2 separate regions of the Homo sapiens genome follow, and region 1 is linked to region 2. The links come from fine-mapping of genetic effects on gene expression. Tissue or cell type: tibial nerve. Region 2 holds a variant in brackets; the other region holds the start of a gene. All regions are shown on one strand. Distances are between the middles of the regions.

What was found. PIP is the estimated chance that this variant, and not a neighbour inherited with it, causes the effect.
Region 1: it holds the start of PIAS1, and the variant in region 2 is fine-mapped to the expression of PIAS1 in tibial nerve (GTEx, PIP 0.98).

The regions. Positions count from the first base shown.
Region 1 is chr15:68,051,182-68,059,181 of GRCh38, forward strand. PIAS1 (protein inhibitor of activated STAT 1) reads left to right here and starts at 3,134. Exons shown (of 14, transcript NM_016166.3): 1 at 3,134-3,169. The coding sequence starts at 3,146. RefSeq lists a silencer at 2,933-3,432.
Region 2 is chr15:67,951,284-67,959,543 of GRCh38, forward strand. No RefSeq gene overlaps it. Among named protein-coding and RNA genes, the nearest start is that of PIAS1, 99 kb to the right of the region's middle. RefSeq lists an enhancer at 3,766-3,845. The variant A/C (reference allele first, on the strand shown) is at 3,687.

The sequences.
Region 1 (8,000 bases), 100 kb after region 2:
AGACATTTAAACTGCAAACCAGGATGAGAAATTGCTGACATCATGTTGTGGACAGCGTTTTCCAAGACTGTCAGAATAAGACTCGCTACCATGATAAGACTCCTTCCCTTCTTAATTTTTTCTTGCTTATGCCCACCTCTTCCACTTGGCAGGATAATGCTGTAGTTAAAATTTCACAATTAGTAGTTTTTGTGGGTAAGTTGATAAAGGGTCAAACCCAAACATTTACAGGACCCAAGAGAGCTTTTATTCCACCTAGTGGGTAACTTTAGCAACATCCCTAATGCAACTGTTTGTTCAAATTTTACTAGTGGCCTCTTTTGTAGAGTTAGCACTCTTTGCTTTAATTTAACCCATTTCTGAGATGCTAGATGATAGAATTGCTGCGTACTAACCAAACGGGGAAATCTGTGCTGTTGCTGTCACTTCTTGTTGTACATAAATAATCTGGTATTGTAGAGACTCAGTTTCAAAAAGTTAGCAGGCTACTTGGTGAAAACAGGTAGATTTCTCATCTGGCTCATTCTTTGATCTATTTGATTTTAGTTGGTTTGGTTTATGGCAACCCTAGCTAAGAAGCATACTCCGAACTCTTGGCATTGTCCTCCTGATAGTCACAATTCTCAATTATGTTCTCTCAAAAAGTTTTACATATTTGCATACAGCCAATTGTTGAATGTCATATGGTCTCTCTTCAGCTGCAATGACAGAAATACAAAATCATGAGGACACTGTAATCTATAAATGATGTGTTGAGACTGGAAACACAGAATGATGTTAAATGAGGGTAGTGCTAATGCCCTCAGTCTTAGTCACAATTTCACCTAGGTTGTTAAATAAAAATCATGGGATGCCATTGTTTTCAACCAAATTCCTGCATCAGGCCTCCAGATCAGACTAAAAATCAAAATGGTGTCACCCATGTTCACCAAAACAAAACTGAGTTATCTGGTTTTCCAAAAAATGGTAAGAGAGATAGCCAATTTTCCAAACAGAAGTTTCAATCTTTAACAGGCATGATAATGAAATTTCCTGTTTTAATCCTTAAAATAGAATACCTGAAGTAACCCAATGTTAACCAATCAGTTTTCTTTCTACTGTTCTGTCTCCACGTCTCCACCTTAAAGAAAAGTGACTTTGATATAACCAATCTGCTTTTTGTTGTTTCTGCCTTCTTCAGTCTATTTTCTGTCTCTAAAGTTAACATCCTCTGCTTGATTCATTGCAACATTTATTCTATTTTGTGGAATGAAGTTTTGTCCAATTCTAGGAGTGCAATAATGCCAATGAGATCTTGAATCTCAATTTGTTTTACTTTTGTTTCTTGACAATGGAGAGGTTTAGGCTAGAGAGCATTTTCAAAGTCATGAGCATATAGACTTCAAGTCAACCAGTTAGATGAGATCACCTGGTGATAAAATAGAGAAGAATGCAAGGACCGAGCCCTGGAGCAGTCCAACATTTAAAGATTGAGCCAAAGAGGAGAAACCAGCATATCAAAAAGGAGGCCCAGTGAGGGAACAGGACTATCTGTGACGTGTAGGTAAGTTCAGGGGGAAAAGTGTTTCAAATCAAAGGAACCATGTCAATTATTCGCGATTCTACAGAGAGGTCAATTGAGATATGGATAGAGAATTGGCAATTGCCTTTGGAAACAAGATCATTAGTAATCTTGATAAGTGATACAGATGATGGAAGCCAAAGCTCGATCAGGGTAGACTGAGAAGTGAATGTGAAGTGAGAGGTAGGAACAAGCACTATTGGAGAGATCTTGAAAAACCTTTCTAAGAATTTATGAAGATAGCAGAAAAATAGGGCAGTTCCTAGAGGCGATTTTGGAGTCAAAGGAAGTTTATTTTAGATGGGAGAAATTTCAATATATTTATATGCTGATAGGAGCAATTCAATTGAGAGGGAAAAAACTAACGATGCTGGAGGGTAGGTAATTGTAAGAGTAAAATCCTTAGGAATGTGCGTGAAAAAAATCCGGTCACTGGTAAAGGGACTGGCCTTCCTAGGCGCAGGGACACTTCATTCATAGCAACCCAAATGTTACTATGCAGATAAGGGTGGTTTTGATGGTGAGAAGATAAGGGAGTTTATTTCTGATATCTTTCATTTTTTCCATGAGTTATGAGGCAAAGTTGATTAGTAAAAGTGGGGGTTGGGGAGGAGGTATATAGAAGGCTTTCAGTAGAGACGAAAAGGAATGAAATAATCCTTCCATCAAGTCTACTTAAATGTCAATTTAGTGGATAAAACCCTCCCAGAATTAAGTACATCTCCCAAACCCTTTCTCTCTCTCAATGACCTTTTGCTCCTTTCTGGTACTCACTAACATTTGCAATTGTATCTTTGTTCGTTCACTTCTCTGATTCCCCATTAGAGAACTACAGAAGGGCACGGACTTTGATTTCAAAATGTATATTTAGCCGTTAGCACAAGGCAAGCAGATGGTCACTAAATAAATACTTTTTTAAACAAAAATGTTAATGAACACCTTCAAAATTTTGTCTTACGCCACCTCGTTAAAATACTTGTTTGTGCAAGTCACTTTTCCTCTCTGAGCTTTCATTTCTGAATCTATACCATGGGAATTATCTCTTCCTTGCCTACCTCCCCTCGTTATCAAGAGGATCTGAGCCAATAATGATAGAAATGCTTCATTAAGGGCCCCTTAAATGTAATGGATTTCTATTTTTAGCCCACTGGTAGCCTCGCAGGTAGCAGGTGCTGAAAAAGCCTTGCTTATTGGGGGTTGGGGGACAGCATTGTTTCTGTGACCGTAGGCGTCGAAGCTATGCAGAAGCGTTCCGCGGACCGCAGAGAGATGGGGCTCAGGCCAGCATCCCTCTCGCTCCGGCCCTTCCCGGGAGGAGCTGGCCGAGCTAGGATGGGGGGCAGGGAGACCGAGGGGGCAGTAACTGTCAAACCTCGCCGCTTGGCGCCATTATTTAAATGGAACGTGCCTGTCTCGCAGCTGTACGTGCCCGGGGCGGGGCTTCGAGCGCCCTGAGCGGGGCGGAGGCTAGAGGCGGGCTGGGAAGGTGGAGGGGCGGGCCGGGGCGGGGCCAGGCCGGCTAGAGGGGCGGGTCTAGCGGCGGCCCCCGGCGAAGTTCACTGCGCTTGCGCTGACAGACGCAAGATGGCGGACAGTGCGGAACTAAAGGTAAAGCGCAGCTCGAATTCACTTCTAATATTCGGCCGCGGAGACGGCGCCGCTGCTGCCAGGGGGGATGGGTCCGACCCTGGGGGGCCTCTCGGGCCTGACTCCACCCGGGCCTGGAGTTGTAGGGAGAGAGGCGCGCCCGGTCTCAGCAGAGGGGGCCCGCCTGCGGCGGGCCGCGGGCCCCGGGTGCCTCGGGGGCGCTGACGGGTCGTCCCCGGCGTGTTATTGTTGTGGGCGCCTCTGGCGGGGGTGGCGGGGGAAGAGATAGGGAGTCCGGAGGTAGGGGCTGCAGCTGTCTCATGGGCTCGGCTTTTTCACCTTCCAGTTAGCCTCCCTGCCCCCCATGGGGAGCTGGGGCTGGGGGCAGGGTGCTCTCGTAGGGGGGATTGGGAAAGCTCCCCGTGGCCGCTTCCTCTTCCTCCTTTGCAGTCCCGGGCTCCTGTCAGGCGCTCTTCTCAGACCCCCGGGAACTTGGCTTCGGCCGCCCCGCCCCTCCGTGGATCCCAGTAGCCCCCGCCCCGGACTCGGCTTTCCCCGGCTGCTCGCTTGTCAGGAAGCGCCTGGGGTGCCCCGCTTGTGGGAAGCGCGATCCCGGGGCGATAGGGTGGGGATCTGGGGGAGAAGCTCTGGTAAAGTTTAGCGAGCCCCGGGCCGGCGTTGGGGTTCGGCTGAGAGGTAGTGAGCGGGACGTTACTCTTTCTCTCTGATTCCGGGCAGCCGAGGGGAGAAACCCCCTCGAAGAGTGTGTCTTTGGAAGCAGTGTTGGGAGGGGGGGATGCAGCTACCTCTCTCCCTTCTTTTGCCTTAGCTGGTGTGGAGGGTGAGAGGAGCCTTTGGGGGTCTCTGCACACACCATGATGGCGATGCTGTAGCTGATGGAGGTGAATGGTTCGTGTTTATATCCCCCCATTGCCTTTTGTTTGTAGGGACATCTTGCTGGCCATGTTGATTTGAACGAAATTCTCCCCTCATGCTACTCCAACCCCCGATAAATAGAACGTTCCTCTTAACAGTACCAATTACTCACGCCTCACGAAATTAGATGAAAGGGTGCCCCCTTTTCCCCGCTTTTCTCCCACCCCAATCTTTACCTGATGATGGCTTCTTTACCGTAGCAGATATACCACTACACAAGCAGTTGGGGGAGGGGGTGGTGGAACCCTTATGACTGGATTGTGACAAATGGGGCTCCGCTTGAATAATTTTGGTTTAGTAGCAGGCAGTTCTTAACTAACGCGTATTATTTCGAGGCTCTGAACGCGATCTTCTCTGTGGCTTCCTGTGTGTGTGAACCCAGCAGCTGGTTATGTCTCGACCCAGAGAACTGACATCTCTGTCAGAGAGGAGATGGGGATATACAATTGTAAATCTTTGGGGAGAGTCTTCTTTTTATAATAAATAAAAATTATTTAATTTTTTCCCCGTTATAATGAAACGACAACTTCTAGAACAACCAAATGCCAGATTTGATTCTGTAGAGTTTTTCCTGTGGAATATCCTCACCGAAAGAGCTTTTCTCCTAATAACTTCACAATGTTTACACTCCAAGATTCGTATGTTAAGGTATTGGCTTTGAGTGTCATTCTTTTAAAATGTACTTCTAATTACAAATTTACTGAAGGGAGAGCAGATTTACAATGGATGGTTTTGATTTTTCCCCAGTTTCAAACTATTGACTGAAATGAGAAAGCCTTAGGAATTTGAATATTTGGAGATAATTAACCCTTGAAATAAAAAAAAGCACACAACTTTAAGACATGTTTTCTATAATTTTTCTCTTAGAGTCACTATGTTGCTGTGATCTTTGCCTTGTAATATTTATTTTGTTAGGAGTTCTTTTGAATGATAGCTAATCAGTTGTTATACATGGACCATAGAATAAAGCTGAAAAGCATGTGCAGACTATATTGTCACTCTTGATGCTGTCCAAAGAAACTAGTATGGAAAGCACATGCTGAGAGATTTCCTTCTTTGTTCTTTCTCATTTTAAGAAAGTGCCTTTGGGGATAGATCAGATCCCTGGTGTGAGTCTTGTTAGGTAAAGTTTCTCTTTACGAAAATGAACCAGTATCAGATAAACACCAAACACTTGAAGAAATGTTATTTTTCTAAAATTAATCTCGTTTTTTGTGCTCTCCCAAATCTACTAGAGTTTTTCCAGAGGAAGTTTTTTTTTTCTACTCTTATGTTCCTGTTGTATAATTTTTCAAATTATAATAACTGTTTTGACATGTTGGTATGTCATTGTGTGTGTCTGAGACTTTGAGGAGCTGTGTGATAAATTGCTTAGCTGGTGATAGCGGCGTTAAAAAAATTTGGTTAATACTTTATTGTGGTTAGATTTGCTGTTCTTTTTTTGAGGGGTGGAGGAGGTGATCTCAGGAACGCCTACCATAGTTATTTGAGAATGTGTTAAAAAAAAGAGAATGTGTATATATAATTTTCTGTGCAGTAAGGTTTGGCAGATACTCCTTTTGGAAATGATATTTTCTGAAGGCTTTTTGTTTGTGATTTTTTGGAGGTAAATATCATACATTCCTAATATGATAGGAAAAATCAGAGTAAGAAGAAAAAAATCTAGATTTTTTGAAATTTTAAATGGGAATAGAGTACTTCAACTGTGAAGCTTTACATAAAACTCAGTGACTTTTCATTATTTTAGGTTTCAGCCCCATACTTCATTTTGCTGTGGATTGTATTCATAATTATTTTCCTCATGGCTTTTTTAGTGAGTCCTTTTAAATCTATAAGAAATGTGCAAAGATCAGATGGGAAAAACAGATAGATCTTTATCCCCTGTAGGAATTGTGCAAGCTGCAACACTTCAAGATATTGCCAATAAAAATTAGATTGTGAGTCATACATATCAAAATGAATTCTCTATGCACATTTGTTTATGAAAGGTTTAATTTTTCATTAGGGGAGTACCCATAAATGTCATTTTTAAGAATGTGGAGGGTATTTTGTCATCTTTAGGAACTTAGAAGCAGGAGGGTGTGATGGCCAGATGATCTTGGTAGTTAATAAGCTGACAGCTTCATGAAACTCCTCTTAAAGTAATTTAAAAAAAAATATGTGTTTTTTTGGAGTAAAACTCAAACCAAGTTATAGTGCCATTTTAATTTACAGGAAGAAGAGTGGGAGAGAAGAAGTCCATCAGCATTTTAGTGGAGTAAATAATGAAATTAAATGGGAAGAGAAACCATAATTATAAAAGTTACTATGAGTGTGTCAGTGAATTCTATTGTTATTTTCTGCCTCTTTATTTTCAAGAAATAGCTACTTAATTTTGATCCTTACGCTGTAATTTGTCTGCTTTTATTTCAGATAGAGTCAAGTACATCTGATAGTTTATTCATGGATTTGATTTGAATCTCTATAACTTGCTTTTGTCAAGTGCCACATTTAGATGGCTTTTGTTTTATGTCATTATTTTTATCAACAGTATTTTAAAAACTCTACAGTATAGTTTATAAAATACTACGTATAGTTTCTAAGTATTTCATATGATTGTTTTGAAATACCTCCTTCTTTTCATCCACCGTTTTCTCCTGGGCGATCCCATTGTCTTTTTCTTCAAAGAGTTTCTTGTAATCCCTGTTGATTGCGGTAGTGCTTAGTGGCGAGTCCATAGCTGATTAACCTTGGGTGTCTCCTGGTGAACTCCATCAGCATGCTGCTCCAGGGTTCTTGCTGAGGCTTTTGAGTTTAGTGTAATTTGTACCCTTTTTTGCTGGTAACCAGGGATAAGAAAATAAAATGGCCAATGGTTGTAGCGGGAACTGGGAAAAAGTATCCAAGTCTCAGAAAAACTGGGTGTTTATGATGAGATGTAGCCTTTCAAAACAACAACCAAAAACGGATTCATTACTTCATAGAATTGATTGTGGTGTTTTCTGAAGTGTTTGACTCTGGCATGAAGCATCTTGCTTTTTTAATGTTTGAATAATAATATCTTACTTATATAGTACTTTGCAGTTCATAATATATTGCATTATCTCTTTTGATCTTTCCAACAGTTCTTTGAGGTAGGAAAGGCAAGTAATAACTAAATCCTTTTTATAGATAGAGAAAGTGAGCCCAGAAAGGGTACGTGACTATTGCAAGGTCATACAAATAAAAGTGGCAGGGACTTGAGCCTAGGTCTTGTGTAGTCCTCCTTAAAGGTCCTACAGCAGACCTGGAGTCCTCTAGGGTGCCCAGTTCACAGATTTCTACTTATGTTGTTGCTGATACTTTCCCTTTTGGAAAAGCTCTATGCTAGGGTATTTTTGGATATTCTAGGGCATTTTGCAAGCTTCCTTGCAAAAAGTTTGGAGTTTGTTAGTTGGAATCATACACATTAATTTTTGTAAGTATCATTTTGCTTGAGAAAATTTCAGAGAATCTGAGAAGTAAGCAGAAAAATAAACAGTACCTGTAATCCCAACACTCAGAGATATCATGGTTAACATCTGGGTATTTATCCACTTAAGACTTTCTCTCTGTGAGCATATGTATATGTATATTCATCATAAAAAGATACAACACTGTTTTTTATTTATAATCTGCTATTTTCATGTCTATCCAGGTTAGTAAATACAGGTCTATATGATCATTTGAAACCTTACATTGTGTTTTATTAAACTAGTCCCTGTCAGATTATTCTACTTTTTTTTTTTTTTTTTTTTTTGAGACGGAGTCTTCCTCTGTTGCCCAGGCAGTAGTGCAGTGGCGCGATCTCGGCGCACTGCAAGCTCCGCCTCCCGGGTTAACACCATTCTCCTGCCTCAGCCTTCGGTGTAGCTGGGACTACAGGTGCCCGCCACTACGCCCCGCTAATTTTTTTGTA
Region 2 (8,260 bases):
CCAAATCTCATCTTGGATTGTAGCTCCCACAATTCCCACGTCTCATGGGAGGGACCCTGTGGGAGGTAATTGAATCATGAGGAGTGTGGGTCTTTCCCGTGCTATTCCTGTGATAGTGAATAAGTCTCAGGAGATCTGATGGTTTTATAAAGGGGAGTTTCCCTGCACAAATTCTCTCTTGTCTGCAGTCATGTAAGACATGCCTTTCACTTTCTGCCATGATTGAGAGGCTTCCCCAGCCACGTGGATCTGTGAGTCCATTAAACCTCTTTTTCTTTATAAATTACCCAGTCTCAGGTATGTCTTTATCTGCAGTGTGAAAATGGACTAATAGAAATGGGTATAGAATTTCAGATTTGCAAGATGAAAAAGTTCAGAAGATCTGTTTCACAATAATGTGACTATACTTAACATTACTGAACTAGACACCTAAAAATGGCTAATTTTTTCAAAAAATGGTACTGGAACAACTGGACATCCACATGCAGAAAATGAATCTAGAAACAGACTTTACACTCTTCCCCAAAATTAATTCAAAATAGATCATAGACTGAAATGTAAAATGTGAAATGTAAAACTACACTACTCCTAGAAGATAACATAGGAGAAAACCTAGGTGGCCTGGGCTATGGTCATGACTTTTTAGATACAACACCAAAGGCACAATCCATGAAATAAATAATTGATTTGCTGGATTTCATTAAAGTTTAGAACTGCTCAGCAAAAGACAATGTCAAAAGAATGAGAATACAACCATAGACAGGGAGAAAATATATGCAAAAGATATAACTGATAAAGGACTGTTACCCAAAATATACAAAGAACTCTTAGAACTCAACAAGGAAACAAACAACTTGATTAAAAAATAGACAAAGACCTGAAAGATATCTCACCAAAGAAGATCTACAGATGGCAAGTAAAAGCACATGAAAATATATTAAGCATCATACATCATTAGGAAATTACAAATTAAAATAACAATGAGATACCATTACATACCTATTAGAATGTCCAAAATCCAAAATACTGACAACACCAAAAGCTGATGAGGGTCTGGAACAGCAGGAACTCTCATTCATTGCTGGTGGGAATACAAAATGGTACAGCCACTTTGGAAGACTTTTTGACAGTTTCTCACAAAACTATATATACTCTTACCGTATAATCAATCAATTACACTTCTTGTTATTTACCCAAATGATTTGAAAACTTACATCCACACAAAAACCTGCAACAGATGTTTATAGTAGTCGGCAGCTTTATTAATAATTGCTAAAACTTGGAAGCAATCAATATGTCCTTTCATAGGCAAATGGATAAATAAACTTTGGTATATGCAGACAATGTCAAGTGATTCAACACTAAAAAGAAATGAGCTATCATGCCATGAAAAGACATAGAGGAAATTTAAATGCATATTACTAATGCATTTTCCAATGTGAAAATGTTGCAGACTGTATAATACCAGCTATAGAGCATTCTGGAAAAGCCAAAACTATGGAGACAGTAAAAAGATTAGTGGCTGCCAGGGGTTAGAAGGGAGAGAGGTATGAATAGGCAGAGCATGAAGGATTTTTAGGTCAGTGAAACTATTCTGTGTGATGCATGTCATTATACATACGTCATTATACATGTATACAATGGTAGATACATGTCATTATATGTATGTCAAAATCCATAGAATGTATACCACCAAGAGTGAATCCTAATGTAAACTATGAACTTTGGGTAATAATGCTGTACCCATGAAGGTTCACTGCTTGTAACAAAGGTACCATTGTGGTATGGGATGTTGATAGTGGAAGGCTGTGCGTACGTGGGGACAGGAGTGGGGATGGGAACTCTCTGTACTTTCTACTCAGTTTTTTTGTGAACCCAAAACTGTCCTAAAAAGTAAAGTTTATTAATTTTATAAAATGGTTAAGATGGTAAATTTTATGTTATTTTTATTTATTTATTTATTTATTTATTTATTTTTAGCACAATTTAAAGAATCTAGAACTGGGCATGGTGGCTCACACCTGTAATTGCAGCATTTTGGGAGGCCAAGGCGGGAGAATCACTTGAGCCCAGGAGTTCAAGACCACCCTGGGCAACATGGTGAAAACTCCATCTCTACAAAAAAAAATACAAAACTTAGCCAGGCATGGTGGTGCATATGTCACCAGCTACTCAGGAGCTGAGGCCAGAGGAGCCTGGGAGGTTGAGGCTGCAGTGAGCTGTGACTGCACCACTGCACTCCAGCCTGAGTGACTAAGCAAGACCCTGTCTCAAAAAGAAAAAAAAAAAATGAAAAGGGAAATTAAAATAAAAAAAAAAACCACACACACTGCAAAGTCTCACTTTCATTCCATCCTGTTCTTGTCGAAGAGGCAACCATTTAAATTTATCCTTTCAGTGTTTTTATGCAACTTCCACAAATATAAGTAATGCATATGTTTTTCTCTTCCTTTCATTCACAGAAAGTAACATCCTATATACACTGGTCTACACTTCCTGTATATTGTGTTTTCACTTAACAATCTATCCTGGAGATCTGTATTAAGCAGTGCTGTCCAATAAAATAGTCACTACCCATATATGGCTATTAAGCAAAAATTAAATACAATTAAAATTTAGCTGGGTGCAGTGGCTCACGCCTGTAATCCCAGCACTGTGGGAGGCTGAGGCAGGTGGATCACTTGAGGCCAGGAGTTGGAGACCAGCCTGGCCAACATGGCAAAACCCCGTCTCTACTAAAAATACAAAAATTAGCCAAGTGTGGTGGCACGAACCTATAATCCCAGCGACTGGGGAGGCTGAGGCACAAGAATGGCTTGAACCCAGGAGGCAGCAGTTGCCGTGAGCCAAGATAGCACCACTGCACTCCAGCCTGGGTGACAGAGTGAGACTCTGTCTTAAAAAAAAACAAGATTAGTTCCTTAGCTGAACTATTCACATTTCAAGCAGTCAATAACCACATGCGGCTGATGGCTACCATTTGTCCAAGAATAGAATATGTCCATTATCACAGAAATTTCTTTCAGAAAGCACTGGTTATAAACATCTTCCTCCTCCTTTTTTACAGCCATATAATACTCCACTGTGTAACAGTTTATTCTACCAATCCCTTCCTGGAGACATTTGAGTTGTTTGCACTATTTTGCTGTCATAAACAGTGCCCTATCATCACATGAGTTTTTGTGGAATAGGTTCTGCACTAACAAAAGGCATGGTAAGATAAGGCTGTGACCTGAGGCAGTGATTGCTCTGCAGGCAGGCCATACCAGGGTGGGATTTCTACTTCCGTGGATCTACTCAGTCCTTAGCTATGCAAATCTGGAAATGTTCAGGCTGATGTCACATTAGCCACACTCATAAGACACTATTGGGCATCAAAAATGAGCAATTACTTGATATTAAATGGAGGTAGTTCTTTAGATTTAGTGAAATCCTCGTGTCTGCTGCCTAAGACATTGCCTTCCCAGAAGGTAAGCCTTGCCCAGGGGAAATGGATAATTCTGACACATATTTCATCCAGACATGACAGGTTCCTGTTCCTAAACCAAGTATGCCTCTCCTTTTATCGGAAAGCTTGTGTTCACTAGGATCACCATTTCCTGTGCAGCATTTTCCCCTGGGCCATCTTTGCACAGATGCCTGGGAAACTATTCCTCTTCTGCCAGCTCTTTCTTCAGGCAGTACAC[A/C]GTGTGCTCGGGAGGTTTCACCTTGTTTGGTGATGGTCATGTTTCAGTGCAGTTTCAAGTCCTCCCCAAATTCTTCAGTTATATAACCACAATGTCTTCAATATTGCTATTGTGACATATGGTGGTTTTAAAATACGCCTAAAAATTCTTTACTACTCTGCTCTTCAAGTGATGAAATTAGCTGAGCATGGTGGCATGTACCTGTAGTCCTAGCTACTCAGGAGACTGAGGCAGGAGGATCACTTGAGTCCAGGAGTTCAAGTCTGCAGTAAGCTATGATCATGCCACTGCACTCCAGCCTGGGCCACAGAGCGAGACCTTGTCTCTTAAAAAGAAAAAAAGATGGAACTTAATTCCCTTCCTGTTGAGGGTGGACCGGACTTTGTGACGTACTTGTAATGAATAGCATGTGGCAGAAGTAACAGTGCGTGCAGCTTCTGTGATTAGGTCTTAAAAGGGAATGTGGCTTCCTCCCTGTCTGGCTTTCTTGAATTATTCATTCAGGGTAGGCCAACTGCCATTTCATGAAGACACTCAACTAGTCCTGTGGAGAGGTCCACGTGGTGGGAACTGAGGTTTCCTGCTAAAACCCAGCACTAACTTGCAGGGTGAGTGTCTTCATGCATTTTGTGCTGCTCTAACAGAATACCTGAGACCGGGTAATTTATAAAGAGCAGTAATTTATTTCTTCACAGTTCTACACACTAGGAAGTCCAAGATTAAGACAGCGGCATCTGGCAAGGGCCTTCTTGCTGTGTCATCACATGGCAGCAAGGCAAAGAGAGAGAAAAAGAGGGGATGAACTCATCCTTTTGTAACAGTATCAATCCCACCTCTGAGGGCAGAGCCATTACGACCTAATAACCTCTTAATGTTCCACCTCTTAATACTATGACAATGTCAGTTAAATTTAAAGACAGATATTCAAATCATGGTGCCAGGTGCAAGAGCCACCTAGGAAGTGGATTCTCCAGGCCTCATCCAGCATTCGGACGATTGCAGACCTGGTCAACTTCTTGAAAATCTCATGGGAGACCGAGTTAGAACCGCCCAGCCAAGCTGTTCCTGACCCACAGAGACTGTGTGAAATACTAAGTGTTTATTGTTTTATGCTACTAAATTTGGGGAAAATTCATTAGCAGCAACAGATAGCTAACATATCTAGATGGCTGAGATCATCCGTTTTTGTTTTGATCCTTATTAATTTCCCTCTTGCAGGGTTATCTTGACTTCTAATCTACAGGGACACTCGAGAACACTAACCTGTGAACCATCATTTTCTTATCTGTAAAATGCAAGATTGGTATGAAGGGCACAAAGCAGGGACTTAAATGGAAATGATTAATATTGTTGTCGATGCTCATTAATAATGGAAGCCTTGGGTATCTTCCATTTGCCCCTCCATATCCATGTCCATTTCCAATCTTTTCTCACCCTACTCTGTGCCCCAGGAGGGGCTGACTTCCATGGACTATGTCAGTGGCCTCTCTGGTTCTCAGCCTTCCGGTAGAGTTTGGCAAATGAGAAATACTGGCAGGAGATAGGAGGAGGGCCAGAGGAAAGGGATGTATTTCCTTGGTTTCTTCCTTTCCAAGTCACCATGCTTTATCTTCATTCCTCTACCTCAGGCCACCCTGTCTTGGTACTGGTAACTACTGTCTCCTCTCTCCCCTCCAGGCCTCTGAATGATAACTGCTCCCCTCTTTTGCTAGCCCCAGGGTGTGTCAGTGTCCTTTGGTGGGCTCCCTAAGCTCTGTCTGCACAACTTTGTAAATAGTCCCTGTATTAAACTCACCTCAAATTGTATAGATCCCCTGCAGGGATCCTAAATGAGAATGGCTAGTTTTAGTTGCTTTTAATAATGATCCTGGATTTTTTAAAAGAAACAAACATTCTATAACCAGAAAGATTTCTGAGAATCCAAATAGATACAAGATTGAGCTTAGAAAAATCTAAAGAAATGGTTGTTTAGAATATCCCAACTTGAATTATCTGGCAAATGTACGTATCACAGATATGAAAGGAACCTTGTTTCCCTCCTGAGAGCAAAACCCAGAACCTCCAAGCAAAACCCAGGACCTCCAAAGTCGTCTGTGGAAGGAGTATAGCTGGAGTAAGACAGCAGGGAGAGCCAGGCGCCATGGCTCACACCTGTAACCCCAGCACTTTGGGAGGCTGAGGTTGGCGGACCACTTGAGATCAGGAATTTGAGACCAGCCTGGCCAACATGGTGAAACCCCATCTCTACTAAAAACACAAAATTTGTTGGGTGTGATGGCGCATGCCTGTAATTCCAGCTACTCGGGAGGCTGAGGCAGGAGAATCACTTGAACCTCGGAGGCGGAGTTTGCAATGAGCCAAGATCTCGCCATTGCACTCCAGCCTGGGAGACAAGAGCAAGACTCCATCTCAAAAAGAGAGCAGTAAGACCAGTGGGAGAGGGCAGTTGGCCAGCCTTGACAGTGTTTCCTGAGAGGACACTTCTCACCCTGAATGCTACTGCCTCCTGCCCACAGGGTGTTGCTGCTTCTCTTTCATGCTTTCCCTAGAACTTCAACAACAGCAACAAAAGCTTTATAGATATTTAAGGAGACCAAAAAGGAGAAAGCCTGAGGAAGAGCCATCCACTTAGGCTGCTCCTCATCCTACTGGAATGAGGAAGTGTAGCTTGGATTCCCAGCCTGGCTGACTTCTCCAAGCGTTGACATCTGTCCCACCCCATGGGGCCAACACACCTTCCCAGGCACCTGCCTGAGTTTCTCATCTTCGAAGTGGGCATAATACTATATTGAGAGGGTTCATCTATGTAAAGTGCCTGGGACAGTGTTGACACCCTGTATGTGCTAATTTTAATAGCAGCAGCAGCAGCTGTAGTTATTAGTGAAGATAATGGGTGTGGAACATGAACATTTGTTTTGACATGTAGGGTTGAAATTTATGCCAAGAGCCTCTGCCTAAACCCAAGAGTCCCAAGAGTGTCTGGGATAGACTATGAAAAAGCATTAAAAGCCTGATGTCTGTACAGAGATCACACAAATTGGCCTGTAGATGATTTTTGTTGAAGGGGTGGTGACAGAGCAGTAATAAAAAACCTAAGTTGTTCTTATCCACTGAGTTGAGTCTTTAGAACCCAGCTTAATATTTTCATGGCTCAGATTTATTTTGAATCTTAGCTTTTATTTAGTGCTTTAAAATGGGAGCAGATTGGGCTTACGAAAGGATGCAAAACTTGCCCTGACATTAAATGGCCCCAATTGCTAGCCTCTTCAGTTCTTATATCTCAATTATAATTTTTTATATTATAATTGTTGGCCTGTTTCCTCACGCTATGCTTTTAGCAGCCAGATCTTATTGCTTAGAAAGTGATTAATAAATGTTGGTTCATTAGTAATGTTTGGTTAATGACTGTAAATGCTTTCTCATTTTCCATTTCCCCTCTTTATTGTTAATTGCTTCTAATCTATAAACTGGGAAGACAGATGTCAAATCTTGTAGTAGTGTATGCAGCTGGAACAAGTCAGTACTGGGAAACAGATTATTTTACTCTTGGAGCACCTGCCCATGTGGAGCTCCTTTTGAAGAAAGCCGATCATTTGACCCTGCCACCATGGAGCAGAGATGGACAGCAAACCCAACAACAGTTGGCTATAGACTGAAAGCCAAGGAGTCAGTCTCCAAAGAACATCAGAAACCAATGGAACCAATCAAATCCTCTCTTTTGGAGAGTTTGAATGTGAGTCTCAAGAGGACATCCCATGCTGAGGAGGTTGAGGCTAACCCATGCAGAGATAAGGCAGCAAGCAAGCCCTTAGGTAGAGCGAGGCTGTAGGAGGAGTAGCCGTGGAGGCAGAGTGGCTTTGTTGCCTGATGGTGAAACCTCAGAGTCAGGGGCCACTGGGCAATGCTGCCAGCATGGAGCTACAGTAATTCCAAATGACTCCTAACCATGTCCTGCTGACTTCCATGACTGTTAGAAGGAAAGTTGGTGCTGCCTAGTTGTTCCCTTGCATGTGGCTGTGTGGGCTGTTTTGGTTTATTTGTTTAAGAGGCAAACTGTGGAGAGGTAAAGAACTTTCACTTACTCTAACCAGAGTATCCTTATTTTCTAGAACACTTTTTAAAAATTTAAGCATTTGATATATGGAACCTGGTATAGATATTAAAATGCACTCAAGAGGAAACATGCTTTTGAGCTGAGGTCCTATTTTCCAGCTTCTTTTCCTTTTTTTTTTTTTTTTTGAGATGGAGTCTCACTCTGTCACCCAGGCTGGAGTGCAGTGGTGTGATCTCACCTCGCTGCAACCTCCGCCTCCCGGGTTCAAGTGATTCTCCTGCCTCAGCCTCCAGAGTAGCGGGGTTTACAGGCATGTGCCACCACATTCAGCTAACTTTTGTACTTTTAGTAGAGACGGGTTTTCACCATGTTGGTCAGGCTGGTCTCTAACTCCTGACCTCGTAATCTACCCGCCTCAGGTTCCCAAAGTGCTGGGATTACAGTCGTGAGCCACCATGCCTGGCCAGTTTCTTTTCCTTTTATTTTGGGTCTGGCAGGAGGCTTTTATATTGTCTCCCAG